Homo sapiens: one gene and its partners. The protein of the gene in region 3 purifies or fractionates together with the protein of the main gene of each other region. This does not show direct contact. Each region holds a gene or a part of one and is shown on either strand. Other genes may lie near its edges. The genes, in order: GSE1, SP1, HDAC2 and SUDS3.

Region 1 (6,877 bases), on a different chromosome or scaffold from region 3:
CCAGAAAAGTGGGAGGCACCAGCTCCTGCCCCTCAGCTCGGGGCTCCGAGCCCAAAGGCCCCCCAGTCCGCCTCCTTCAGAGCAGGGGAGGACAGACAGTACCTGCTCCAGGGGCTCAAGGGGAATTTGGGACTCCAGGGGTTGGAAGGGGGGAATCTCTAGCTCAGAGGTGCAGGACCCCGGTCTGCCACAGAGTGGCGCTGTGCAGACTTGGCTCTTCCTGGGGCCGGCGATGCTGAGCCCACAGGCAGGCTTGGCTTCTGCTCTGAAACCACAAGGCACTCAGATCTGCAGCCCCTGAACTTCCCCCAGAGACAGGGAAGTGACTGCTGGAGGGGAGGGCTCATCGGGGCCATCGGAGGAGGCTTCCTGCTGTGAGCGCGGTGTCCGCCCCACGCCTGGCCCCAAGCCTCAGTTTGCCCCTTGTTCCTACCCCCAGTGTGTACGTTAGGATCAGCTGGGGAGCTCTGACAACCCCCAGACCCGGGTCAGGAACCCAGAGGCTGTGGCTTAACTGGGCTTGGAAAGGCCTGGCCAGCAGCAGTTTTAAAACACCGAGTTTGGAGATGTACAAGCCCCTTTGAACTCTGACACTCCAAGATCCTAAAAACTGTCCCAAACAGCTCAGAGCCTGCGCCACAGTGGACACCTTGTTGCCTTCCTTGTTTTGAGCTCAGCCTCACTGTGCCTAGAACTAGGACTTCCCGACCTCCCTTCCCAAGGCAGGGCTGACCCTAGGTCACCGGAGGCTCCTGGCGGGCTCTCACCAGCTCTGGCCCGGCACCGCCCCCAAGGCTCCAGGAAAGAAAACTCCAAGCGTCAAAACCGTGGTTGGCTCCAGCTTCCCCAGCTTCCCCTCCTGACTTTGGTGTCTGCTGCCAGAGTGACAAAAGCCATCCTCGCACCCGGCCCGCAGGAGATCAGGAACGCTGCCGACACGGGGCTGGCTGTCTCGGAAAGTCTCTTAGGAAGCACCGAGGTCGCTGCTCTCGCAGGCCAGGGCCTCTTCCAGCGCTCCTGAATCTACCTGGGCGGGGCGACTCCCTGCACAGCCGGCGGCCGGGATGACACACTTCGCCGTCGGAGCCTGCGCCCTGGGCCCCTCACCTGTGGCGTGGCGGCTGAGTCAGGCACAGCCTGTGCCTCAGGTTCTGCCGTCCCTGCTGGTGGAGGCGGCCGTAAACACAGGGTGAGCAACACTGAAGTGCCCCAAGCTTAAGCAACACCGAGGGAGGCCAGGGAAGGCTGCTCACCTGGGTTCCCCCTTCCACCCCTGCCGGGAGGCGGGAGCACGGAATCCCAGAGGAGAGGACGAGACGGCCGACCAGGGGGCACATTTCACAACGCCCCCACCAAGACCTTCTCTCTGCCCCTTTGTCCCCCGCCGCCTGGAAATCGGCTTAGGCGGGTTCGCTTCCACCCGGAGTGCGGCTGGGCCTTTTGTTCAGGCGCCTTTTACAAAAGGAGCCCTCTTTCCATTTGGTGGCCCCGCTTTTTGTTTCCAAACCCCAACCTGTGTGGCCGCTACCCCTCAGGCCCCAGATAAGGCACCGCAGCGGGGAGCAAGGGTTTAGTGTGTTTTAAACGCACTTTGTACAAAGGCTAGTTTGTAAGAGCCAAACCGACTCAACTCCGGCTGGCATCCACCGCCCAGCTGGGAACCCGGCAGGTGCTCCCCCACCGCCAGCACGCTGCCCTCGGAACTCAGACGGGCACTGCGGCCAGGCCCCCGGCCCACCACGTGGAAAGGGCGCAGCCTCCACTCCCCCATCTAATGAGGGTGTCGCGGTGTCCCTTCCCCCCATCTGGGAACCCCCTCCCTATGGCCTGCGCCTCGAGTCTCCACCGCACATTTCTAAGTGCCCCCCTGGTCCCCCACCCGGCGCTGGGGAGGGGAGGCGGAAAGCTGGGGGTGGGCGGGCGCAGGGAGGGTGAGCTCCACTCCCGCTCCGCCTCCATGAAGGGAATTTAATTAGCCTGCTAGAGAGGCGGGCGGGCGGCCGAGGAGGTGTCTCTGGTGCTGCAATATAATTGAATCGGCTCCACTCGGTCGGGCCACTCGCCGCCCATCAGCGCGGCCGCAGGGCCCGGGAGGGCTGGGGGCGGGGAGGCGCATCCAGGCGGAGCAGGAAGGGCCGGGGAGGGAAAAAGGCCAGTGCGGGTGGGGGGCGGCGGATGTGCAATCCCTCTCCCACCTCCGAGGCTGGGGCAGCCATCTTCTGCGGGGGGGAGGGGAGGGGCAGGGAGCCGCTCCGCCGGGGGTGGGGGGAGAGAGAGGAGAGAAGCGGCCGAGCCCGGGGCGCGCCCTTCCTCGGGAAGCAGGGCGTGGGGGTCACAAACCCGGCAGGCTGCGGTCCCGCCCTCCCGACCAACTCCCCCGAGACAAGGGGTCGGGGAGGGGGAGGGGAGCAAGACAAGAACCCTAACCGGCGCGGCCCCAGTAGCGAGCACCCCCCCCCCCCACACCCCCGCTTCCTCGGCCGTCGCCAGCACCTGCCGCGGGGGCGCACAGCCACCCCCATTCGCTCCCTCCCGCGTCGCCGCAAAGTTTTCATTCCAGCTCTCCAGCGCCCGCAGCTCTCGGAGACTCCCCCCGCCACCCCCATCCCCCCACTTTACCTGCCCTCTAGCCCGCACGCACTTAAACGCACCCCCCCCATCCCCCGCTGAGCGCACTCCTGAGCCCGGAGCCCCCGAGTCCCCGCCCGCAGCCAGGCCTCCCAGGCTGCGACCCGCGGGCGGAGGAAGGGGGTGGCCTTTGGTCGCCTGCCCGCCCTCCCGGCTCTTATCGCCGCTAACACTCCGGGGAAGTTGCCCGGGAGCCGTTGGCGGCCGCCCCCGCGAAACCCGCGAACTTGCAGGAGGACAGTGCGGTGGGGGGAGGGGGGAGGACCCCGTCCCCGGCCGGGTGCGGCGCGCTCACCTTTCATGCCAGGGCCCCGCAGCTCCACCTCGGCTGATACATGCTGGAGCCACCGTCGCCCAGTGTTTGTCTAAACTGCTTATCTCACCCGGGGCTGCTCGGCGGCGGCAGCTCGGGCCCGCTGGGGAGGTGGAGCTTCCGGGGCCCCGGCCAAGAAACACCTGCTGCTGTCGCCGCCGAGGACACACCCAAACGCAACGCCGCCCACTCCCGGGCCACTGGCTCGCTCCCGGCTCCCTGACCTCAGCCAGCGGGAGGTGTCGGGTTTCAGCCGCAAACACACAGGCGCGCGCGCGCGCACCGACGGGCGCCCGGATCCACCCGCCCAGGCACACGCCCCTCCCCGGCCCGGCCGGCCAGGTGAGCCGGGGACACCAGCGGGGCCGCGGAGGTGCCACCCCCACACTCTCGGGAGCCCCTGGCTGGACTGCTCGGGGGTCCCGGGGACCTTGGTGGCTAAGACCGGCCACTTAACTCTTAAAGTAGTGCAGCACCCTCGCCACGTGAGCGGAGCCCTGTCTCGCAGCTGCGTCCCGGGAACCTAGAACAGTGCCTGACACAGAGCAGGCCCAATAATGGGCGGACGGGTAACTCCGTGTCCTGGAGGCCTTTTGGAGAACAACTTTCTGGGCGCTGGTGGCGCGTGGGGTGGGGGGAGGCGACACAAAACAGACTGTGTACCCAAGCCCCACCCCCCCCATGCCTGACCTTATTACCCCAACTAGAAAAGGCTGAATACTAAGAACTTGGCCTCAAAATTCCATAAGGCACCCCACCCCCCAGTTTTAAGTAACTTTTGGGAAGGCCACAATTGCGGGCCGCTGCGGGGGGTGTTCTTTAAAGAACCCGCGGCCCAGGGGCTGGAGAACCCACGGAGGCGCCGCTTCGCCAGGGGGATCATTAAGTAGCTGGGGTTGCGGTCAGAGGCGAGGTCGCCCGCCTCCAGAAACTGGCACGACCCATTGCGCTTCTGGCCCCAGCGCAGCGCCTCCCCATTCCTGGCACCCCCCACCCTACCTCACCCAGGCACTTGACTGGAATGACTCAGGGAGCGTCCTGAAATTCCTGGGCACCCACAGGCGGCGCGGAGAGGGACTGAAGGCCCCAGCCTTCCCACCCCCCGGCTCCGCCCACCCCGCCCCGCCCCGCCCCGCCCCCACCCCATCGCGGCGGGCGCGTCCCCAGGAAGCTCGGGGTTAAAGGGGCGGGCCTCGGGGGCAGGGGTCGGCGAGCCTCCCCTGCCGCCTTCTGGCGCCCTGGGCTGTAACCCCCCCGGGCGGCTCTGAGGCCCCGGGGTCGCTCCCTCCTCATCCTCTTCCAACACCCCTCTGATCTAGCGCGTCCCTACTTCTGAGCCCTGGGGCAAACCAGCACCCCCTGGGCGGCCGCCCCAGCGCTGCGCTGCGGTGCGGGTTTCGACTTTCAGCCCCCTCGTGCCAGCCCCAAACCTGCCCCGGGACATGCCCGCGCCAGGCTTGGCAGGCGCGCACGCTGCCGTCCCCGCGAGCCCGCCTCCCCCGCCTTCCTCCCTCCCCCTCCCCGCGCCAGCCCGGATTGCGACGGGAGCGAGCGCTGGGCGCCTGCCACCCCCCATCCATCTGTTCCCGATGACGCTGGCGGGCCTAGAGCGTTCGGGGCCCGCGCCAGCGGGGAGCAGAACCAGCCTGTGTGCCCTCCGGGGGGCAGGGTCTGGCGGGCTCCCTCAGGCCCCACGCTCCCCGCTCGACCTCCGACCGAGCGCGCGCCGGGGCCCGGAGGTGGGGGCGCACGCGGGCCGGCCCCCCGCCTTGCACAAGGCTCCGGGCAGACCACAAACGAAAAGGGAAACGGACCGGCGAGGCCGGGTCGGGCCGTTACTGGCTCCTACCTGCGGACGCTGGCCGGCCCTGGCACGGCGCGGGGGTGCTGCTTCCCCGCACGACCCGCCAGCTCACCGGCGGCGCCCCCCTTGCGGCCTTGGCCGGACGCTATAATTTACGCACCACACGGTGGCTCGGCCGCGCGGGCCCGGGTAATTTATACCCGCACTGGCCGGCGGATTCACCCGGCCCCAGGCGGCCAGGGCTGGGAGGGGGAGGGGGAGGGGGAGGGGCGCCTCCACCCCCACTGGGAGTCACGGGCGGGGGGAGGGGAGGATAGGGAGGTGTTAGGAAGGAATGGACGACGACTGGCCCCGAGCCTTAAAAACAAAATTCACCTCCGGGACTGGCCCAACCCCTTTCCCACCTGGATTACAAGCTGCGGGGGGAGGGGAACAGCATGCAAATGAACCTCTCGCACCTGGCCGGGTAGACACCTAGGCCCCACCTCCAGGTCTCTCACCCGGACACGGTGCCACCACCTACTCCCTTCTTCCTTGGAGAGGCCCTTGGGCCAGGGGTGAAGGTGGGGTTAGGTTTCTCCACCTGTTTGAGCAGGACCACGACGGCCAACCACAAAAACGTGTGGAGTGGCCACTGGGAGGTGCATCACTCGGCTTTTTAGAGCCGGCCAATCCCTCCGGCGTATACATCTAGCTCCCCTGGATTGCGAGATGGGTGGTCTGGTCCCGTTTCACAGATGAGGAAGTTGAGGCCCTGAGTTGCTCAAGATCATGTGCACACAGGTGACATGCAAGCTGCGCCCCAAACTGCTCACACCTGGAAGTCACTCCCCTTCCCAACCCAGTAGGCCTAGGGGAGCGAGGCGCTGCCGGACACCCCGGCAACCGCCGGGGGGCAGCAGCGAGCCGCTCTGTGAGTCCTGGCCGGGAAACGCTGGCGGCCACCAGGCGGGCTGGCAAGGGGGAGATGGATGACACTCACTGTCAGTGCGCCCGGCCCCCGGAAATTAGTAATCCGGAGCACGGCCTCCGAGTTTAAGGGTGGGAATTGCTCTCCTGCAGCCGGCGCGCTCCTCGCTAACGAGGTTTGTCGCTTGACTCCTAATTTCCCAGCACTGGGGCTAAGGCTGGCCTCCCTCCATTTCCCTCCAGGCCTGCTCCTCCTCCTCTCTCTTCCTAAGCAGCGCCCTACCCACAGCCCCGCGCCCCCAGATAGTGCGAGCCCTTCCTGGGCACAGCTCTCTTTCCCTGGACCTCCTTCCCACCCTCCACTCCCATTTGCCTGGAAGGAGCTAGGTAGGTGCCAGGGCCAGGCCTACGGAGGCACCTCCCAGAGCAGGACACCTGCCCTGGGGATGCTGCACGCGGTGCTCCTTACCACGGACTGTGCTTTGTGCCAAGGCAACAGGATGCTGGTGCCTGGTGCGCGTTTGCTCACACCCTGAGGCCCCTGCCAAGCTAAACTGTGCCTCCAAGAGCGGAAGGCAGGCTCCCAGCCCCTCACCTGCCTCAGGTACCTGCTTCAGTGACACCTAGGTGCAAACTCTAGCCCTACCTCCACAAGCCCTGGAACCTATTAGACCTGCACCACAAAAGAGATTTAAAATTTAAAAGCTTTCCTAAGGGCATGGTAGCTCACGCCTGTAATCCCAGCACTTTGGGGGGGCCAAGATAGGCATATTGCTTGAGATCAGGAGTTCGAGACCGGCCTGGACAACATGGCAAAACCCTGTCTCTATTAAAAACAAAAAAAAATTAGCCCTGCATGGTGGCGTGTGCCTGTAGTCCCATCTACTTGGGAAAGTGAGGTAGGAGGATCCCTTGAGCCCAGGAGGCAGAGGTCGCAGTGAGCTGAGATTGTGCCACTACACTCTAGCCTGGGCGACAGAGTGAGACCCTGTTTCAAAGGAGGAAAAAAAAAAGAAAGCTTTCCATCTCAGATGAACATGAGACACCTTAAACCTACTCCCTGAGCTCAGGAACTAAGAGGGGTGTCTGGAGACGGGAGTCCTAGGAGGATCCACCAGAAAGAAAGGGACGCCTTGAACCACAGAGGGTGGGCGGTTTTTCACTCAACAAACACACTAAACCCTGGGCTGTGTTTCACACTTGGTTTTCCAGAAACAAAACTG
Region 2 (5,810 bases), on a different chromosome or scaffold from region 3:
TTTAGTAGACAGTTTCACCGTGTTAGCCAGGATGGTCTCGATCTCCTGACCTCGTGATCCACCCACCTCAGCCTCCCAAAGTGCTGGGATTACAAGCGTGAGCCACCACACCTGGCCACGATGTCAGTTTCTTAATTTTGACAATGTACCATGGTAATATGTTAACAATGAGGGAAACGGGTAAGGATTATATGGAAACTCTGTTCTAGCTTTACAACTTTTCTGTAAATCTAAAATTATTCCAAAATAAAAAAGCATATGAGAAAAAAAATAAAGTTAGTGTTGCCTGTTTGTCTTGGTCCTCCACATTTCCGTGTAGTTGTGGCACATTGATCTGGTCATGAAACCATTTACCCGGGAGTTAAATATAGGGCAATTGCACTAATTAACATGTATGGAGCACAACACAGTGTAGCTGGAAACCTTTGTTAGGTTCAGAGTATGAAGTTACAAACGTACACTCTCACCATTCCCAACCCTCTTCAATACACCAGAGACATGGTTTTTTATTAAAAAACTTTTTAATTGGTTTACAAAGGAGGCTACAGACTACATTGAAACTAATCTTTGTACAAAAGGCCAAAAAAAAAAAAAAAAAAGTCCCAAAACACCAAGAGACAAAAGGTAGGAGGAAAGACAAGAAAGGAAGATACAAAAGGAGCAGGAAGAAACTTACTTAGGGACAAGATTAGCATCATACATACCTAAGAGTGGGGGGTGAGGGGGAAGAACAAGATGAGAGAGCATTTAAAAGCATTTACCCACACAGCCCTGGTGATAATTGGATTGGAATCAAAACAAACACAGCATGAGATTATTAAGAGGTTTTAAAAGGCAACAGTGGTGTGGACTGGTTATTGCCAGTGTTAAGAGAGAAATAAACTTGGGTTTTTAGGCACCAGAGATTGGAGCACCACCCATCCCTTCCAGAGGATGACAGACTTAGGAAGGGGAAGCAGGCCCTGGGGCAGCTGCCACTGGTGTGTGTAGATGTCTCCTCAGGTCAATCTCAGTGTATCTTCCCCGAAGTCTTTGTGCCCTAGACTCTAGGTAAGGGCTATGGGATTTCACTGGGAGAAAGGGATGATCAAAAATATGAAGACCTGCCCTTGTCCACAATGTTCAAGAGCAGTTACCGGGAAACTGGAGCACTGGGTAGACAGAGCCCATATCCCTGGGGAAAAGGCACAGTGTAATTCCTGAAGGCAAGATATGGGAAAGCACACATCCCAGCAGAGGTATCAACAAAATCCTCACTACTTGCAGCCCTAGTCTAATCCCATTTGTTAGGCTTTTTTTTTTTTTTTTTCCCCTGATACTTAGCTAGGACTTAGGGCAGTTGAGAGGCAGATCATCATGCCTCTACTTTCTTAGCAGAGACAAGGAAGACTGGGGCTGTTTGATAATGAGGAAGGGGAAAATGGGACAAAATACTCCTCTTTCAAATGAACACTGTGGAGAAAATCTTTCTGGGTTTGGGGAAGTCAGAGTAAAGACTTAGGGGAGTAATAAAGCCAGAGACCCCCCTTCTTTTCCTTTCCCTGCCTTGGATCTAAGGCAAGTGAGCCAAATTTGGAAGAGGGAGTAGGAATTTAAGCTTAAGGCTGCTTAATGTCTTCCTGGGGGCTGGTGTTTTGGGAAGGCAGACAAAGAGAAACAGGTCAACCTCAAAGCTGGTCTGCTCATCCTCTTAGAAGAGGTCTGGTATCTGTGGAGTAGAGCCAAGAGAGGCACCACAGAGAGCACAGTCTCCCAAACAGAAGTAATAACCGGCTCATATTTTATCAGCAGTTTTCAAAAGCAATGTTTTCCGGGGTTGGAGAAGTGCCATATCTTCCTCCCTTTCCCCAAAGCTACTGCTGCGACCTTTCTTTCATCCTTGTACATAAGTTACTGGCTCTCTTCTAAGGGAGATAAATTCTGAGATTTCACATTTTCCCTCTCAACCCCAATAGGCTACCCAGCTTCAGTGAGGGGGAAGGAGAGCTATGCAAAGGGCCCCTCACTTGAGGCAGCTAGACTGTCCTTATTTCCTTGGTACCTGATCTCCAAAACTCTTGATCTGATCCCAAGGTCCAAAAGGCATCAGGGTACTTACACTGAAAACTTCAAGCAAGTAGCACCAGGGCTCCCCCTAAGCATAACAGGGGCCTGATTAGCACCCCAGAAGAACCCCTCAAAAAGTATATAAATTTATTGCGTCCTAGCAAAGATCTGCAGCTTCCAGTATTCACACAATGTGAAGATATTAACAATACAAAATATATTTTGAAAGTCAAACACCTGTAGTTCATAGTGCTTTTTTAGATTTGTTAAAAAAAATACAATGCTTAGTTTCCTATATAGGATATACAAAAGCAAAAAATATATATGTATATAGTAGAAATAAATCAGCCATAGTAATTTACAGCTTTTGTCTCCAACCCTCCCCTAATCATAATCTTTATCCCACACTTCAGTATATACTTTCTGGGATCAAAGGATCAATTTATTCTGAACCAGGCTGAGAAATATCCATTAAATTGCATTCTGTGTAGCACCCACAGAGTGCCAGTTGGAAATCCCTGAAGGAAGACGGTGTGGGTTGTTACTGTTCTGGGTAAAAAGTGAGACAGTCAAATGACATGTAAATGAATATAAATGGGCAACCTGAAAACCTGAAAGGATGAGGGAATAAGTGTTTTACTATCTCACCACTCTTCTGGGCATCCCCTGCCCTGCAAGTTTTGGTCATCTAAAAAATTTAAAAAACTCATTCAAAAAAATGAAAAAAACTTAGGAAAAAAATTTCAGAATCAATATGCATGTCAGTTAAATTAATTTCTGTTAGCCAAAAGTTCAGGGAAACGGGGTTTTTCTGTAATAAGCTCCTGACTCAAGGAATGTAGGCTCCAAACTTCCTGTGGAAGAGACTGAGTGGCTCACTACTGCTGGGAGACAAAAGAAGCTGCTTCTGTTTTGAGGCCAAACAAGATACTGGATCTGGAGCTTCCTTGGTGTGAAGAGAACAGGGCAAGTGGAAATAATTAGATATAAATTCACTCATGGTAATGCTAATGAATAGGGTTGAGGGTAAACCAGCAGCTTTTCATTCGAGAAAGAAATACCATCAAATTACCTTCTAAAAGCTTATATCCTCAGCATCATTACATTATTTTATATCTGGTAATTTCATACTGGAGAAGATTCCATTCCTTGAAATGCACTAGCAAAATACTGTACATTCCAGTGAGTTATCCTGCCCCTTTCCTCCAAAAGATGCCAAAGTACATGATTACAGACATAAAATAACAGGTTCTGAGTTCTGCCTTTCAGTGAGAATAAAGGGTATGATAGTGGCTGTGCATGGATGACTTGTATCTCAGCGTTAATAGAATTTGATCTGGGGAAAGTTCCTTGCCATAGTTCCTGAGTTGAAAACATAATTACATCTGTGGAGAAAGGACCAAATGGAGTGAACTATTGTTTAGAGTATTAAGTTACTATAGTTCAGATTAAACAACACACTTACCCAAAACTTAATTTGGATGGATTTTATATAAAATATATAATAGAATCATACCATCATCTATTTGTAGCCAAAGTAAAAAGATTTATGAGAAGAATAAGGACTCTGCTATAGATCTGGATGTTGGTTTCACTTTCAAACACAAAAATAGTTTCTTTTTAAAAAAGTACAGTAGAATATCCTCCATTCATAATTGTAATTAATTTAGCATAAGCAAAGAAATGACCTTAGGAACATACCCAGGTTTTAAGATAGATTTCTAGGTAATGGGCCTGAAAGGCATTTTGATCTGAATTTATTTTCCAACGATTTCAAATATAATTTGTCATCTGTGTGTAGACATATACGGGCATGAACACACATTCACCCACACATACAAAAACACTTGCTTTCTATCAGATCAGGGTAATTTTTTTATTGCAGGTCTCTTTTAATATTGGCTAGCAGAAAACCTATCCCCAACCTAACAGATTACACACACACACACACACACACACACACACACACACAGAGCTATTTTTCCACACTTCCTCACAGTGAAAAGCTCTCTAACAAGATACCAGAAGGTCGAGAGAGACAATGCTTTTATGGCTGGGCCTTGAGGACAATTCTGGTTGCATTTAAATCTCAGTGCCAAATGCACTAGGTTCCCTGCCGTTATAATTTTTGGATCAGTCTCTTCTGAAATCAGGTCACAGAGAAAACAGGATGATTTCTCCCAATCTCTCCTATAAAACACTGTGGTAAGACAAGATTTCTTTTTGTTCTGGGCTATCATTCCCATGATCATGTGCTTCCCTTTCCCTTAGGAACCACCCAAGAACATACAAGGAAAAGTTAAGGGAAAACATCATAAGAACCACTGTCTTGCCACTAGCACATGCTTTGGAGGAGTTCTGCAGAATGGAAACCTGAAACAGATTCACTGGCTGATGCTCCTTATTGACAATGGAAAAGAACCTAGTGGGGATGTTCAAAAGAAGTGTATTTCCTTTCAGAATATAAACTCAGAAGCCCACACATCAAAACTTAGAGCTACCTTGGAAGACAGCAGTACCAAAGTCCAAATACTCCACTAACTCCTGAACCTGACTACGAGTCATTTCCTCTTCTGAGCACATGATTTTCCTAGTGAAAGCCCCCTACCTATTATTTGAAAATTTGACAGTTTATACAAACTGAGCCAAGATTATTATCTTCAAAGGGACTCTTGTACAATTCCACTGAAAGACTTCTAATTCTTGATGCTCAGAGCAGCTAATGAAGGGAGATGCCTTTGACTCTCCAGCGCCAAGAAGGTGCCTGCGTCAGTAGTATTTTGAACACTCCCTCCACAGTTACTTCAAGCATCAGCCTGGGCTTCAAGGATTTTTCCATTCTGCTGCTGGAACTAAGGTCCTGAAAAAATTGACAGAAGTGCCTCATCCAGGCAGTAACAAAAACAAAACATGAAGTGATCAGATGAGAGAAGATGAGACGGCAACAGTTGAGTTAGGGAAGGAGTGCAAGAAGCTGATCCCAAACAAAAAGACAAAATTAAGAAAGGAAAAACATTATGTATGTATATATGAACTAAAAGCAGAGCATATGAACGCTTAAGCTGGTGGGAAGCCAAGACAACATCTACAGAAAAGCTTGATGTGTCACAACAAGGCTCAGCCATAGGGAAATAAGGCAATATAAAAAAAATGACCAAGGTATTTTGGTCACAGAATGGTCTTCCTCCTCCCAGCCAACCCCTGTGAATGCATCTCTATATATCTTTATATATATATATATATATATAATAATATAGAATCTGTTTTTTGTTAAAAAGTATTTCAATGATCATATATATTTATCAAGGCATGATGGCTTTAGGAAAGGGGGGGGAATCCATCATGGAAGAGCTGAGAAGAGAAATGCAGGAAGGGTAGGCTGGGGTAAGAAGTGTAAGAAGAAACTGGGGTCAAACAAATGCTCATCAAAGCGTGGCACCAACAGAATTTTCACTAATGTTTCCCACCTTCAAAGAGGCACTGATGATACAGATGGGTGCCGGGACCCCATCTCCTCTCTTGTATCCCTCTCCTGATTCTTCTCAACACCATGCATTTTAATGCTTCATGGCTCTCTCTTCCATGTCTCTTGGACCCATGCTACCTTGCATCCCGGGGTTAAGGGGTATGGCCCATATGTCTCTGGCCCCGGGTGCCTGATCTCAGAAGCCATTGCCACTGATATTAATGGACTGCAGATCTGCCACCTGCATGACGTTGATGCCACTGTTGGCAAGACGGGCAATGCCCTCTGGACAGATGGC
Region 3 (7,039 bases):
TTTAGGCTTCCTGGGGCTGTTAGGCACACGGAGCCTCTTGGCCACACAGAATGTCTGCCACTGAGGCTGTTTGCATCTTAATGAAAGAACTTTTAAATATATACATATTGTTCTCTGCACGTTATGTAATCTTCAGGTAACCCTTTAGGTCACTGAAACGTTGGTCCCAAGGGAACCTTCAGACATTGATGGATTAGGTATCCTTAAACCTTTGAAGAAAAGTAAGAGAAGTTATTACTTCTCTGACTGTAGCTATTGATCCATGCCTCCAAATTCCCAAAAACATACTTCTGAATCATGTTCCTTCTTTATACACTAGAAGATCATCAAGAATCTGTAAAATGATACAGCTAATTAGATAGTCACTAAGATCCCTTCTGGGCCTTAAAACGATGTGATTTTTCTCTACTTAAATATAATTAGCAGCTAAGCTGTGTTAGGCTCTAGTTATACCACTCACATTTTTAATACTGTATCTAGACATGTTTATGCTTTGTTTTGAATTAATCTTGAGGCCAAACATATTTAGTGCTTGTTTTTATGGTGTATACAGTATAATAGGGTTTATATACCTAATTTATGTAACTATACACAAATTTCTCTGTGCTCTATTTTTTCCTCCTCTGAGAGGGATGCATAATCAGTTTTGGAGACAAGTGGTCCAGAAAAAAACACTCAAAGACTGTATACAGATAAAACTATATAAATACAAAAGTTATCAAGATTAGGCCAGGTGTGGTGGCTCATGCCTATAATCTCAGCACTTTGGGAGACTGAGGCAGGCAAATCACCTGAGGTCGGGAGTTTGAGAAGAGCCTGGCCAACATGGCGAAACCCCGTCTCTACTAAAAATACAAAAATTAGCCAGGCGTGGTGGCAGGCACCAGTAGTCCCAGTTACTCGGGAGGCTGAGGCAGGAGAATGGCTTGAACCCAGGAGGTGCAGGTTGCAGTGAGCCAAGATAGTGCCATGGGCAACAAGAGCGAAACTCCGTCTCAAAAAAAAAAGTTACCAAGATGATACCTCCCAACGTACTCCTTCTTCAGCAAATTATAGAAATTCTACTTGGCAGCCAACGATTGTCAGATTTTCTTAGACTTGTATTTATGAGTAGTACCAAAGTCTTTTGCTGAATAACCTTTAATACAACTACATGGGTTCTTAGCTGTGGTATAAATCTTTATTATCCGTGAAATAGGTAATAATTTCTTTGGAGGCAAATAAGTGCTAAATTAATTATAGCAGCAGTTCATAAATACCAGTAATACTAATTGCACAATAAAACATGACTAAATAAGACTGAAATTTTCCTATACTTCTCTTTCCCCAGAAATCTTTTGCCTCTCTTTTCTTTCAAATTTTACCTCATCAGAGATGCTTTCTCCTATTACCTAAGTCCCTGTTATTGCCTTATTTTTCTTCCTTTTGGTTGTACCATATAACTTTTGTCTCTCTCCTCACTATAACATAAGCTTCATTAGGACAGTCTGTCTGTTTTGCTTGTGTTTGTATCTTCGCCAACTACATTTAAAAACGTAGCTTTTTTTTTTAATTAGTGATGAATAAATTATTAATTCCTTATACTTTTTTTTTTTTTTTGAGATGGAATTTTGCTCTTATTGCCCAGGCTGGAGTGCAGTGGCGTGATCCCAGCTCACTGCAACCTCCACTACCCTCCCGGGTTCAAGTGATTCTCTTGCCTCAGCCTCCCAAGTAGTTGAGATTACAGGCACGTGCCACCACCCCTGGCTAATTTTTGTATTTTTTAGTAGAGATGGGGGTTTTACCATGTTGGCCAGGCTGGTCTCGAACTCCTGACCTGGGGTGATCCACCCACCTCAGCCTCCCTAAGTGCTGGGATTACAGGCGTGAGCCACTGTGCCTGGCCAATTCCTTATTCTTATAGATAGAACGCTTTCATATAACGTTCCCTCTAATTCTTGAAACTACTCTGAACTACATTTAGGTAGGATGGGTGGCATTTTGGCATTTTTGGTATTGTTTAGATGAAAACAGATTCACATTTGTTTGGTGCAGTCTACCACTTTTCCTTTTCCACACTGACTGTAGTTTTAATGTTCAAGGAGAGTTCAACATCCGGAATCTTTATTTTTCTTTTTTCCTTTTCAAAGTGTTTCCTCTGCTACCAAACAAACAAAACTCCTTAACAAAAACTTTAAATGCTTCTGTTGACAAGTCCTTAAAGGAAAACACTTGGGATTGGAGAAGGCATCTCTTAGGGAATGTTAATAAATTCAAACTTGGAAGAATTCAAATCAAGTCTAAGGATTTTTTTGTACTGGTTATTAAGCCTTATTCCTCTGTATTTCAGTAGCAGTCTGCTTATTGTTACTTGTTCATTAAGCCAGCTTTGGGTTCAGACATATCAAATAGGCTTAAAGTTCCTACTGTGTGCCAAATAGACAAAAGATTGCTCAAGTCCTAAGAAGGAAATAAAAGACTGCAGGTATAAAGTAAGAGAGGGGGCCGGGTGCAGTGGCTCACGCCTATAATCCCAGCACTTTGGGAAGCCGAGGCGGGCAGATCACAAGGTCAGGAGTTTGAGACCAGCCTGGCCAACATGGCGAAACCCTCTCTCTACTAAAAATACAAAAAAAAGTTAGCTGGGCATGGTGACGGGTGCCTGTAATCCCAGCTACTTGGGAGGCTGAGGCAGGAGAATCGCTTGAACCCGGGAGGCAGAGAGGTTGCAGTGAGCCGAGATCATGCCATTGCACTCCAGCCTGGGTGGGTGGCAAGAGCAAGACTCTGTCTCAAAAAAAAAAACAAAAAAAGTAAAAGAGAGGGGACCTTTGATAGTGTAATCAGAAAAGGGAAGACCTGAAGGAAGAGAATGGGCCAGCCTTAAAAAGAGTTTACTACATAAGATATTACAAATAGCAAAGCCAGATAGTTATTAATAGAACTTGGTGCACTTAATGGGAAGGAAGACAAGGAAAATGTGGAGTCCCATGTTAGGCAGTAAAAAGTGGGACTGCACAAAACTGTGTAGTAAGAAATTTGACTTTACCCAGAGGTGGAAAGCCATTGAAAGTTTCTCAAATAGAATGCATTCTCTCAAAATAATTGGTAAGGAGTTGTGGAATATAGGCTGGAAGCAAGAATTGAACACATATTGGTCCATATAAAATGTAATGGTTGCATTTTAGATAGAAATAGACATATTTAAGAGAGATTTGGGCCTCAAACCAATAGAACTTTTTGATGGATTAGAAATGGAGTTGGAGCTGAGGAATGGTGTTAGAGAATGAAGGATGACTCCTAAGTTTCTGGATTGAGCAGTTAGGTGGTATGTGGTACTACTCACTAAGATTGGGAATACAAATAAAGAGCTCTGTTTTGAACATCTTATATTTGAGATCCTTATTGAATTCAAGTGAAAAGACTGAGAAGAGAGTTAACCTCTGTGAGTTTATAATCCAGAGAGGAGAGTCTAGACATAGAAATTTGGGATTTCTCAGCTTATATCAGGTGAAGTATTGAGACTGAAAAAGATACAGCATAGACAGACGACTGGTCCCAGGACTTAACTCCCGAGAGAAGAGAATTTAGGGCAGAACTATTGTTCACTGATGAACCCAAACCCTTAGAACAGTACCTGCTTGGCACATGGTAGGCTCTTGATTTATTAAATGAATGGCTGAACTGAAAACCCTTGATGTTTAAAGGTTGGTGGAGGAGTGGCCTTGGGGTACAAGTAAAATCCCAAGAAAATGGTATTATGGAAGCCAAGGCTCCGAATGTCTCAAGGAGGAATAACCTCCTTGAAATATGTATTAAAGATGTGTTAATATGTATAAAAAATGGATAGTGGGCTAAGTAGTCTGGAAGATGAAAATAATAAACTTTTTTCTTTTCTCTTGTTTTTTTTTTCCTGAGTCTCTTTTTGCAGTCAACTTATCTTTGTGGCTAAAGGTACATTTCACAGTTCTGAAATCCAAAATGACCTGAAAATTGAAAAAAATTTTGGTAACTCATTTGGAATCAAAATCTTAACCTGAATCAATGTGAGGCTATTTATGATCTTTATTCCTCTGTGAATACCGTGAATATTCACACTTTTTTGCTGTAGAAATATTAATGTTTGATTATATCATGCCACCCAAACTCTAGGCTATTACATAATATATGGCAGGTGTACCATATTATCTCTACAAAATCTGAAAAAGTGTAAAATTTGAAACATATCTAATTTGAAGGAATATGGATAAGAGATTGTGGACCTTAGTAGACACTTCCATTCTGTTAGTTTCTTGAAGAGTGAGCAATTTGTAAAATTTTGCAGATAAATAATTCTTTACAGTAATTTCTTTGCATTGACAATTAAAGTTTGTTGTGTTCAAGGAACCACCTTGAGCTGATTTTTCTGAATGTTTATTTCATTGGTAAAGTATTTTTATGTACAGGTTGAATATCCTTTATCTGAATTCTTGGGACCAGAAGTATTTCAGATTTGGGGAGGTTTTGCAATATTTGTAATTATTTACCAGTTAGCATCCCTAATTCGAAAATCAAAAATTTGACATGCTCCAGTTAGCATTTCCTTGACTATTAAGTTGGTGCTCAAAACAGTTCAGATTTTGGAACATTTTGGATATCAAATTTTTGGATTAGGGATAATCTGTATTTTGATGCAAATCAGTAACATTTAAAATGCCCAAATTATTAATACATTACTGACCATTTAAATGATGAATAAAAATTGTAGGGTCTTAAAACTTCTTAGCCTTTTTATACTTTATGAAAAAGTGGGCTGGGCACAGTGGCTCACATCTGTAATCCCAGCACTTTGGGAGGCTGAGGCGGGCAGATCATCTGAGGTCAGGAGTTTGAGACAAGCCTGGCAAATATGGAGATACCCCGTCACTACTAAAAATACAAAAATTAGCCGGGTATGGTGGTGGGCGCTTGTAATCCCAGCTACTTGGGAGGCTGAGGCAGGAGAATTGCTTGAACCCCAGAGGTGGAGGTTGCAGTGAGCCAAGATCACATCACCGCACTCCAGCCTGGGTGACAAGAGCGAAACTCCATCTCAAAAAGAAAACAAAGTGGATGCCTACAAAGTAGCCATCTAGAGAATTGTGAGATACAGAATTAGTGGGAAAAAGTTGGAGATGGTTATTTTATAACGCCTTTATATTTTAGAAGAATTCTTTTTTTTTTTTTTTTTTGATACAGAGTCTCGCTCTGTCACCCAGGCTGGAGTGCAGTGGCACGATCTCGGCTCACTGCAACCTCCGCCTCCTGGGTTCAAGTGATTCTCCTGCCTCAGCCTCCTGAGCAGCTGGGACTACAGGCGCATGCCACCACACCTGGCTTTTTTTTTTGTATTTTTAGTAGAGACGGGGTTTCACAATGTTTGTCAGGAAGGTCTCGATCTCTTGACTTCGTGATCTGCCCGCCTCGGCCTCCCGAAGTACTGGGATTACGGGTGTGAGCCTCCACGCCCAGCTAGAAGAATTCTTGGTAAACCAAAAAATTATCTGTAGCTTGGCTGCCCTGTATACATGTATCATTTAGGTTCTTTGTGTATTCTTTGTGGGACTGGGGTCCCTAAATTTCAACAGAGAAACTTGTTGAAAGCTATGCGTATTCGTATACGATTTGAGGACCCTATTAGTAAAAAGTAAATTACTCTGATATATTAGGTACAGTTTCTTGTGTTCATTTTCTTTAAATTAACCAAGACCCTAAGCCTTTATTTAAAATATTTATATTTCATATTATGTCTTTTTTTCAGCCTTCACCCTGCCATTTCTAGTGAATCTGTAAGTGTCCTTGACATTCCCTGTTGTTATTACTTAAGAACATTAGCTGTGAGCTGCCCTGCCAGAGTTTGAATCTAGCTCCTCCACTTGCTGGCTATGTGACTTAGGCAATAATACCTGACTTGTCTGTTTCTCATCCTTCTTTACTATTATACAATAGGAATAATGTAATAATACCCACATCATAAGGTTATTGACAAGATTAAAAGATATGTGAAGTACTTAATAGTGCCTTCTAGTAAGCACTCAACAAGTGTTAATTACTGCTTTTTTTTTTTTTCAAACACACTTGCTCAGAAATTGCTACTGTAGTCTCCAATTATTGGGGCCTGGGGCTTTTCACTGGATTTTCAGTGTGCATCAAATAACTAGAGTATTTGATGTTATGATGTGGTAGATGTTAGAGACATTTCATTTGGGTAATTGTTACACAGAGGCAGATAGATGGAAGTTATTGTTTAGTTTGTGTCTTTTCTGTTTTAGGTGATATTGGAAATTATTATGGGCAGGGTCATCCCACGAAACCTCATAGAATCTGCATTTCTAGTGAAGACTAGACTTTCATTATTTTTACTTTAATGATTTCTTTAGTAGTGATAACTAAGAAATGCCTTCCCTTGTATTAATTTAATTACATGATGCTTTGTAATAACACTAGTGGGTTTTCCATATCTAAGAAATGATGAGACCAGGCTGCTTTCAAGGAACTATATATCCCTTGTATTGTCACCATGTAAGGTAGAGCTTTATGGTAGATTCTTTCTTAATAGGTAGTTTATTTTCTGCAATCATAGCCTCTTAATTATAATTGCAGAGGAATGTTGCAAAGGGCCATGGCCCTGCTTTGCTAAACTCTATATTGTTTCTTAGCCTTGTTGGCACCTGCATTAAAAAGGTGGCTTTCCCTTTAAAAGACTTTGTATATGAATTGTTTTCAGAAGAGAGCTGTGCTGAAAATGAAGTTAACTAAAATTAGAGGTGTGATACCAACAAAATCAAGTATTTATGTTATTAGAAGCATGGATTTTGTAAAAGCTGATTGTTTATCCCGTACTGTTATCAAATATGTAGGAGAGAGGACAAAAAAGTTTTTGGGGTTGTTTCCATTAAACAAACAAAAGGTGTATTTAGGGAGGACTTTGAAAGATTTAGTGGATAAATTGCATTTTTTATTCTAGCTTTTATTGTAATATATAAACCCGTGTTGAAATGATAGACTTCAAACCATTAAAATAGCTTGACTGTCCTGA
Region 4 (6,997 bases), on a different chromosome or scaffold from region 3:
TATCCGTGGGGGAGTGGTTACTGCACCTCCCGTGGATACCAAAATCCTCAGCTGCTCAAGTCTCTGACAAAATGGCATAGTATTTGCATATAACCTACGCACATCTTCCAGTATACTTTTCTTTTTAATGAGACACAGTCTCACTCTGTCGCCCAGGCTGGAGTGCAGTGGCACAATCTCGGCTCACTGCAACCTCCACCTCCTGGGTTCAAGCGATTCTCCTGCCTCAGCTTCCCAAATAGCTGGGATTACAGGGGTGCACCACCACACCCGGCTACTTTTTGTATTTTTAGTAGAGATGAGGTTTCGCCACGTTGGCCAGGCTGGTCTCGAACTCCTGGCCTCAAGTGAACCACCTGCTTTCGCATTCCAAAGTGCTGGGATTACAGGCATGAGCCACTGCACCAGGCCAACAGTACACTTTAAATCATCTCTAGATTACTTAGAATATCCAGGCCAGGCATGGCAGCTCATGTCTGTAATCCCAGCACTTTGGAAGGCCAAAGCAGGAGAATCACCTGAGGACAGGAGTTCCAGACCAGCCTGGCCAACGTGGTGAAACCCCATCTCTACTAAAAACACAAAAATTAGGGCCAGGTGCAGTGGCTCACGCCTGTAATCCCAGCACTTTGGGAGGCAAAGGCAGGTGGATCACCTGAGGTCGGGAGTTCGAGACCAGCCTGACCAGCATGGAGAAACCACGTCTCTACTAAAAATACAAAATTAGCTGGGGGTGGCGGCACATGCCTGTAATCCCAGCTACTCAGGAGGCTGAGGCAGGAGAATTGCTTGAACTCGGGAGGCAGAGGTTGTGGTGAGCCGAGATCGCGCCATTGCACTCCACCCTGGGCAACAAGAGTGAAACTCCATCTCAAAAAAAAATAAAATAAACAAAACAACAAATAAAACCACAAAAATTAGCCAGGCATGGTGGCAGGTGCCAGTAATCCCAACTACTCCGGAGACTGAGGCAGGAGAACTGCTTGAACCCAGGAGATGGAAGTTGCAGTGAGCTGAGATCGTGACACTGCACACCAGCCTGGGTGAGTGAGTGAGACCCCATCTTAAAAAAAAAAAAAAAAAGATTACTTACAATATCCAATAAAATGTAAATACTATGTAAGTAGTTGTTACGCTACACTGTTTAGGAATAACAAAAAAAAAGTCTGCACATGTTCAGTACAGATCCAATTTTTTTCCTGAATATTTTTGAGCTGCGCTTGGTTGAATTCACAGATGCAGAACCCACAGATACGCAGAGCCAACTGTATACAATAAAAAAGGGGAATCTGACACAAATAAATATTTTCCAAGTTACAACTAAAGGGAACAAGGAGGAGGCCAGATGATCAAACGAAAACTGTTTCAGAACATCTTAAACATTGTTCTTAGAACAAGCTAATGGCTGGGGTGTGTACAAAATTTTAATAGCCCCTATACTGGAAGGAAAAAAAAACTCAATTTTGGCTCCACAGCGCCCCCTCGTGGGTATGAGATGAAGTGCAAGTGCTTCACATTCAAAATCTCTGGTTAAGCCGTGTCTTCTGATGGAATTAAATCGAATGCAGTCCCTCAACTTTGTATGTCATGCATATGCAGCTGTCTTTTGTAAGGCTGTTGCAGATCCAATTCCCCACAAACCCTTCTCCCCTCCTTCAGTCAAGAGGCCTTCCCTGAGTTCCTGTCATGGTCAGCCACATTACTTGGCACTCGGGAAACTCAGATGAATAAAACGTAGGCCCCATTCCAAACAGCTGGTCTAGCTTTTGCTCCACGGCCCGATTTTGTCCCAGAATATTCCGCTCATATATCGGTCTCTCTTTGTTTCCTATTTCTCCTCCCTTGATCTCTCACATTTCATCACCTTCCTCCTCCTCCATCCCTCCAAAATAGCGTTCCTCACACTTGCCAAATTATAAAGCCCAGTTTGAAAAGCAAGGCTCTGAGACTCTGTGATGACAGTGCAAAGAGCGTGGGACTGAAAACACAACACCTGGGGACCATTAAGCAAATCTCTCCCTCTCTTACCTGTTTCCGGGAGGGGGGCGGGTGGGGAGAACATTTACGGAGTATTTACAGTACCAGGCCAAGTACTTTATGCGCATGTCATTTAATCCCTATACCGACCCTAGGAAGTGCCTTCTAGGGCAGGTGTGGGAATTAAACAGCTCCATTACAGTTGGGTAAATCGAGGCTGGAAAACTTAAGTTTACAAAGCTGAGTTAAGTGACAAAGCCAAATTTAAACCTGTATCTGGCTGGTTCTAGGTCCCTTTCCTTTAACCAACCTGAGTTCTCAATAGTGTACTACCTAAAGTATAGATGACTTATGCATTTCGGGGGTGGGGAGGGGCAACTTTGGACTCTGATGCTCTCACACACAAAAAAGGGGCGAACTACACTCGATGTATTCAGTAAATGAGTTTCTAATTCCTACTAGTGAGTGAGGTTCAATCAGAAACGGCTGGGAGGGAGGACGGGGTCTTAAAGGGACCCCCAGCGTGACAACATCTAAGTCCCCTCTCCCCATCACGGTCGAGTGTAACGCACCCAGGGCTTCCCCGCTACTCCAGCACGGATGGGGGTAACTTCCCCGAGCCCCGCAACTCCCGGCGGCCCCTCCACGCAGCCCCAGGCCCCGGAGGCCGCCCCGCCCCTCTCCCGAACAGCCCCACCCCCTCCCCCAGCGGTCCCACCTCCGCTCCGGGCGGCCGGGCGAGCGGCAGGACTCACCTTCGTCCGACTCGCGGCCCCGACAGCTGCGCTCGTCGTCCTCGGCGCTCTCCAGCTCTTCATCCTCCTCGGGGTAGTACTCGGGGGCCGGCGGCGCTCCAGCCTGGGCCGGGGCCGGGGCCAGCAGCCCCGCGGCACTCATGTCGCCTCTGACCGCAGCTGAGCGTGGCCCACGGACACCGCGGCCACCCGCGCTCGGTACTCGCCGTCTGCCTAGCAGTGTCCGCGGCAGCCCCCAACTCGAGGACCGGCAGCCACGGCGACCCCTTCCCCGTCTCCGCCGAGCTCCGCCCCCCGCGCCCGCGCTCGGCAACGGGGGCCTCGCGCCGCGAGCGACTTCCGGGTCGAGAGCTGCCCGACAACGGCCTGATTCCGCCATCCTTGGGGGAGTGGAGATGCCGCTGGACGCCCCCGTCGCCACAACCTCAGCCCTTTCATCGCCGTCTTAAAATCCTCAACGTATAGTGGGGGAGGGGCGGAGCCAGGTTCGCTAGAGTCAGGCAAATCTACGGGCAGGCCCAGCAGCGGTCAGGACCCCGAGGCTCGCAGGCGACTTCCGGAGACAGCCGCCAGGCGGCGCCTGGAGCTAGAACTAAAGCGGTGATCGTTAGCGACCTAGGGGCGGAGGGTTTGAAGGGCCCTTGGCAGGTGGAGGTGGTCTCTAATTTAAGCAGGGAACGACGCGACCTGCCCCCTTATTAGGTCGGAAAACCTAGACGTCCAGAGTGTGCGTGATCATGCAGCCTGGCTCCTCCTGTGACTAGTTAGAGCTTTATTAAGAGCTAAAAGACAAGGATGCTGATATTCCATCCTGGGGACAGCAAAATAGTATTTTCCCAGCCCTTAGGAATCCTTTCTGTTTGTGTAAGGTTTATTCGGTAAGATGTTCCCCCGGTTTTACAAATGAGAAACGAGCTGTCGTTTGCCTAAAAAAAAATAGTAACGTCCAGTCTGATTTTTTAGACTCCGAGACCCAGGCCCTCCGCGGTACAGCTGCCTTGAATATTAATTTTTTAAAAGGTGCTTTTGCTTAATCCAACAGCTTGCTCTGAGCTCTCAACTGAAGAAGGGGAGAATTTGCCTACCAGAAGTTATTTGGCTAAGGCCCACGTGGAAGCTTAAAAAACAGGAGAGCTGAGTATCTGCAAGAATTAATTTGTGCGATTCCCTCTGAGTAGAAAAGGAACACGGTGTTATAAGTTTTGCTGAACGAATAGATTTAAGGTGTCCCTTTAGCTAAGAGCAATGTGGTCTAGTTGTGTGTAGCGAGAAAAAAGGGTAAGGTTTTTAATGGTTTGTCCAAAGTAGCCCCACTTTTATGTTCCACCCGAGTCTCCGTAGGAAACGCAACCAGTAGTGAAAATGAACAGATGTGAAAACCAGGGTGGAACCGAATATTCCCATTCTCAGACCTTTTGTGATTAAATTTATCTCTGAATTGTTCCCTATGGACTCTTCTGAAAATGAAACGTTATTCTCATCCCACTTATTTTGACATTTATTTACTACCTTGTTTTAATTAAAATCTTGGCTCTATTTGTAAGTGATTTTTTCTCCCAACAAAACTAAAGAATTTCCAGAATGGAATGCTAAGATGTCTTTCCAGGAGTTCTGAGATCTTCTGAAGCCCCTTCTAAATAAGAATCATTCTCAGATCGCACCGTAGGTCTGCCATCTATATTTAAACTAGGATTCCAGAACTGTCTCTTGTCCAAAAGATGAAGTCATTTTCTTTCTTTGTGCTGTTGGAGAACATCTAAATTACTTGCAATCAACTATATTGAGTAACTTGCGTTCCTGTCAGTAGCAGTAATCATAGTGCAGAAAAAGCAAAGATTTTAGAAATCAAGAGTTCATTGATACAATTAATTTTTAAGTTTATTTCGTTGCTAAATGGTTTCCTTTCAAGACGCTGAGATTTTTATCCTGCTTATGTTTTACTGCTGTCTTCTTGACTGCAAACAGCATCTGTTAATGGTCATGCATTTCTTTTTTATATGTAATGAATAGACACAACTGAGCACTTGGGTTATGAAAACTTACCCCATTTTTTTCTGTCCAGATTGCCAGCTGCAGAACTAAAAAATGCTCTTTAGTGAAGGTGGACCTACTCAAAAAAATTCTCTTATGGCTTTAGTCTTACCTAACCTTTAGATTTATTTAATATGATTTTGGACAGTCGCTATACTCCTGTAAAAATCAAGTTCCCTCAAAACCAAGTTTTACCACCTTGAAATCTTTTTATATATCCCTTCTCAAAACGGTACTCAGCCACACCGCTCAGGAACTCGACTTGACTTGAAACGAAGCCCTGCCAGCCCCATTTCCACAACTTCTTTGCTTCCAGGCCTTCTCTGCCTACCCTAACACCCAAACTGAAACTTTAAAGGGGGACATCACAATTGGAATGGAGTATGATTCTTTTTTTTCTTTTTCTTTTTTTCTTTTTTTGAGACGGAGTTTTGCTCTTTCACCCAGGCTGGAGTGAAGTGATGCGATCTCGACTCACTGCAACCTCCGCCTCCGGGTTCAAGTGATTCTCCTGCCTCAGCCTTTCTAGTAGCTGGGATTACAGGTGGGTGCCACCATGCCCGGCTAATTTTTGTATTTTTCGTACAGACGGGATTTCACCATGTTGGCCAGGCAGGTCTGGAACCCTTGACCTCAGGTGATGAATGGCGTATGATTCTTAAAACACTAGAAGAAACATGTATACTGTTTAGAACACAAACACATTTTGTCAGCTGGAGTTAAAAAGTTAACAATCGAGGGTTCTCTGAGAACTAAGGCCTGTATACATCTGACAAAACTTAGGATCAAAATGTGTTCCTGAGACAATTTCTTCATAAAATGCTAAATTCTAAAGTCCATAAACTTACTTTTGGCGTTAAGAGTAAGGAAAGCAGTTTTCTGTTTCCGGTGTTGATTTGATCAGCATATCCAGTTTCACAAAAATAACACAAATGGGTCTTAGTAGCATGATGCACTTTCACCCCTGGCAGGCACTATCCTTTAGCGTGGATCAAGAGGAGTCTCTGATTATCACATGTTAAACCTGGGTCAAAGCTCGTTATCCTTTGGCCACACGTTCACATAGAATCATTAAAACCTGTGGCCCTGGAAAAAGGTTATATTGAATAGCTTTGCTGAAACCTTGTTAAGCTAATAATAGGGTTCCCCTACCACAGTCTTCCTACTGTCATAAAAACCTACAAACTGAAAATTTCTAAAGCTTTGTCCTTGCACCTATCAAAATGTGCCCCGCATTGAACGCTTAGTTGGGCAAAGTATGCACCTAGTACTGTATATAGATTTTTTTTCCCCCAACGGTATCAAACTGACGGCTGCTGAACTCAATTCAAGGAGAGGCAACTCCCTTGCAAGAGATTTTAAAAAGAAATGGTTTAAATCCAGGAAATTTTTACAAATCCTGGGCAAATTAATGCTATATTAGTTCATGGCAGAATTACTAAGAAAGCTGTGCAAGGTCTAGCGAGAGACTGGGGTCCTCCCCAAAGGCTCTAACATGGTGGTCCCTGGGAATCTCCCAAGAAAAGTAAAGGCGTGGGGAGAAGCGCCATGAACTTTGACCGGAGAGCAGCACAAACAAGACTGACCGCACCCCAGGCGGGCCCGTAGGTTACTAAAGTTGCAAGGTCTTCCGCGTCTGAGGAGACCCCGCCCTGCCCTGTCCCGCCCATCGACAACTCCGCCAATCCTCGGGTTCCATCGACCGCTCGGCTTCCCAGGCTCCATCAATCAAATACCTATATACGGCCCCGGCCCTGTGCCCCGCGATCAGGGAAGGTCAGTAGAGAGCCTATTGGAGCCGAGCTTGGGGCGTGGTCCGGGGCAGGGGGCGGGCGGACTGAGACGGTGGGGCGGGGCGTGCTCGGCGCAGTCCGGTGCGATTGGCCACCCCTGGCAGGAGCCGCACCTCGGACAGCAGCAGCGGCGGCGGCCGCGGGAGGGTCCTTGTGGCGCCGGGCGGCGGGGTCCTGCGTGGAGAGTGGGACGCAACGCCGAGACCGCGAGCAGAGGCTGCGCACAGCCGGATCCGGCACTCAGCGACCGGACCCAAGGATCCGCCGGGGAACAAGCCACAGGAGAGCGACTCAGGAACAAGTGTGGGAGAGGAAGCGGCGGCGGCGGCGCCGGGCCCGGGGGTGGTGACAGCAGGTCTGAGGTGAGAGCACCGGGGCGCGGGGCATGACAGTGGGAGCCGAGGCGGCGGGACCCCAGGCAGAGTGAGGGGAGTTGCGGGA

Evidence for each region.
Region 1: the proteins of HDAC2 (region 3) and GSE1 purify together in Homo sapiens (affinity purification with mass spectrometry; 5 studies listed by BioGRID and IntAct, with this or other methods). This does not show direct contact.
Region 2: the proteins of HDAC2 (region 3) and SP1 purify together in Homo sapiens (affinity purification with western blotting; 11 studies listed by BioGRID and IntAct, with this or other methods). This does not show direct contact.
Region 4: the proteins of HDAC2 (region 3) and SUDS3 purify together in Homo sapiens (affinity purification with mass spectrometry; 5 studies listed by BioGRID and IntAct, with this or other methods). This does not show direct contact.

Annotation. Positions count from the first base shown.
Region 1 is NC_000016.10:85,609,445-85,616,321, reverse strand, and holds the start of GSE1 (genetic suppressor element 1), read right to left. Parts: upstream 3,001-6,877; 5' UTR 2,931-3,000; coding exon 2,924-2,930; exon of another isoform or gene 2,494-2,923; intron 792-2,493; exon of another isoform or gene 768-791; intron 749-767; exon of another isoform or gene 1-748.
Region 2 is NC_000012.12:53,411,139-53,416,948, reverse strand, and holds the end of SP1 (transcription factor Sp1), read right to left. Parts: coding exon 5,709-5,810; 3' UTR 503-5,708; downstream 1-502. UniProt on the Homo sapiens protein: Transcription factor that can activate or repress transcription in response to physiological and pathological stimuli.
Region 3 is NC_000006.12:113,961,117-113,968,155, reverse strand, and holds part of HDAC2 (histone deacetylase 2), read left to right. Parts: intron 1-5,761; exon of another isoform or gene 5,762-5,789; intron 5,790-7,039. UniProt on the Homo sapiens protein: Histone deacetylase that catalyzes the deacetylation of lysine residues on the N-terminal part of the core histones (H2A, H2B, H3 and H4).
Region 4 is NC_000012.12:118,372,569-118,379,565, reverse strand, and holds the start of SUDS3 (sin3 histone deacetylase corepressor complex component SDS3), read right to left. Parts: upstream 3,012-6,997; 5' UTR 2,875-3,011; coding exon 2,733-2,874; intron 1-2,732.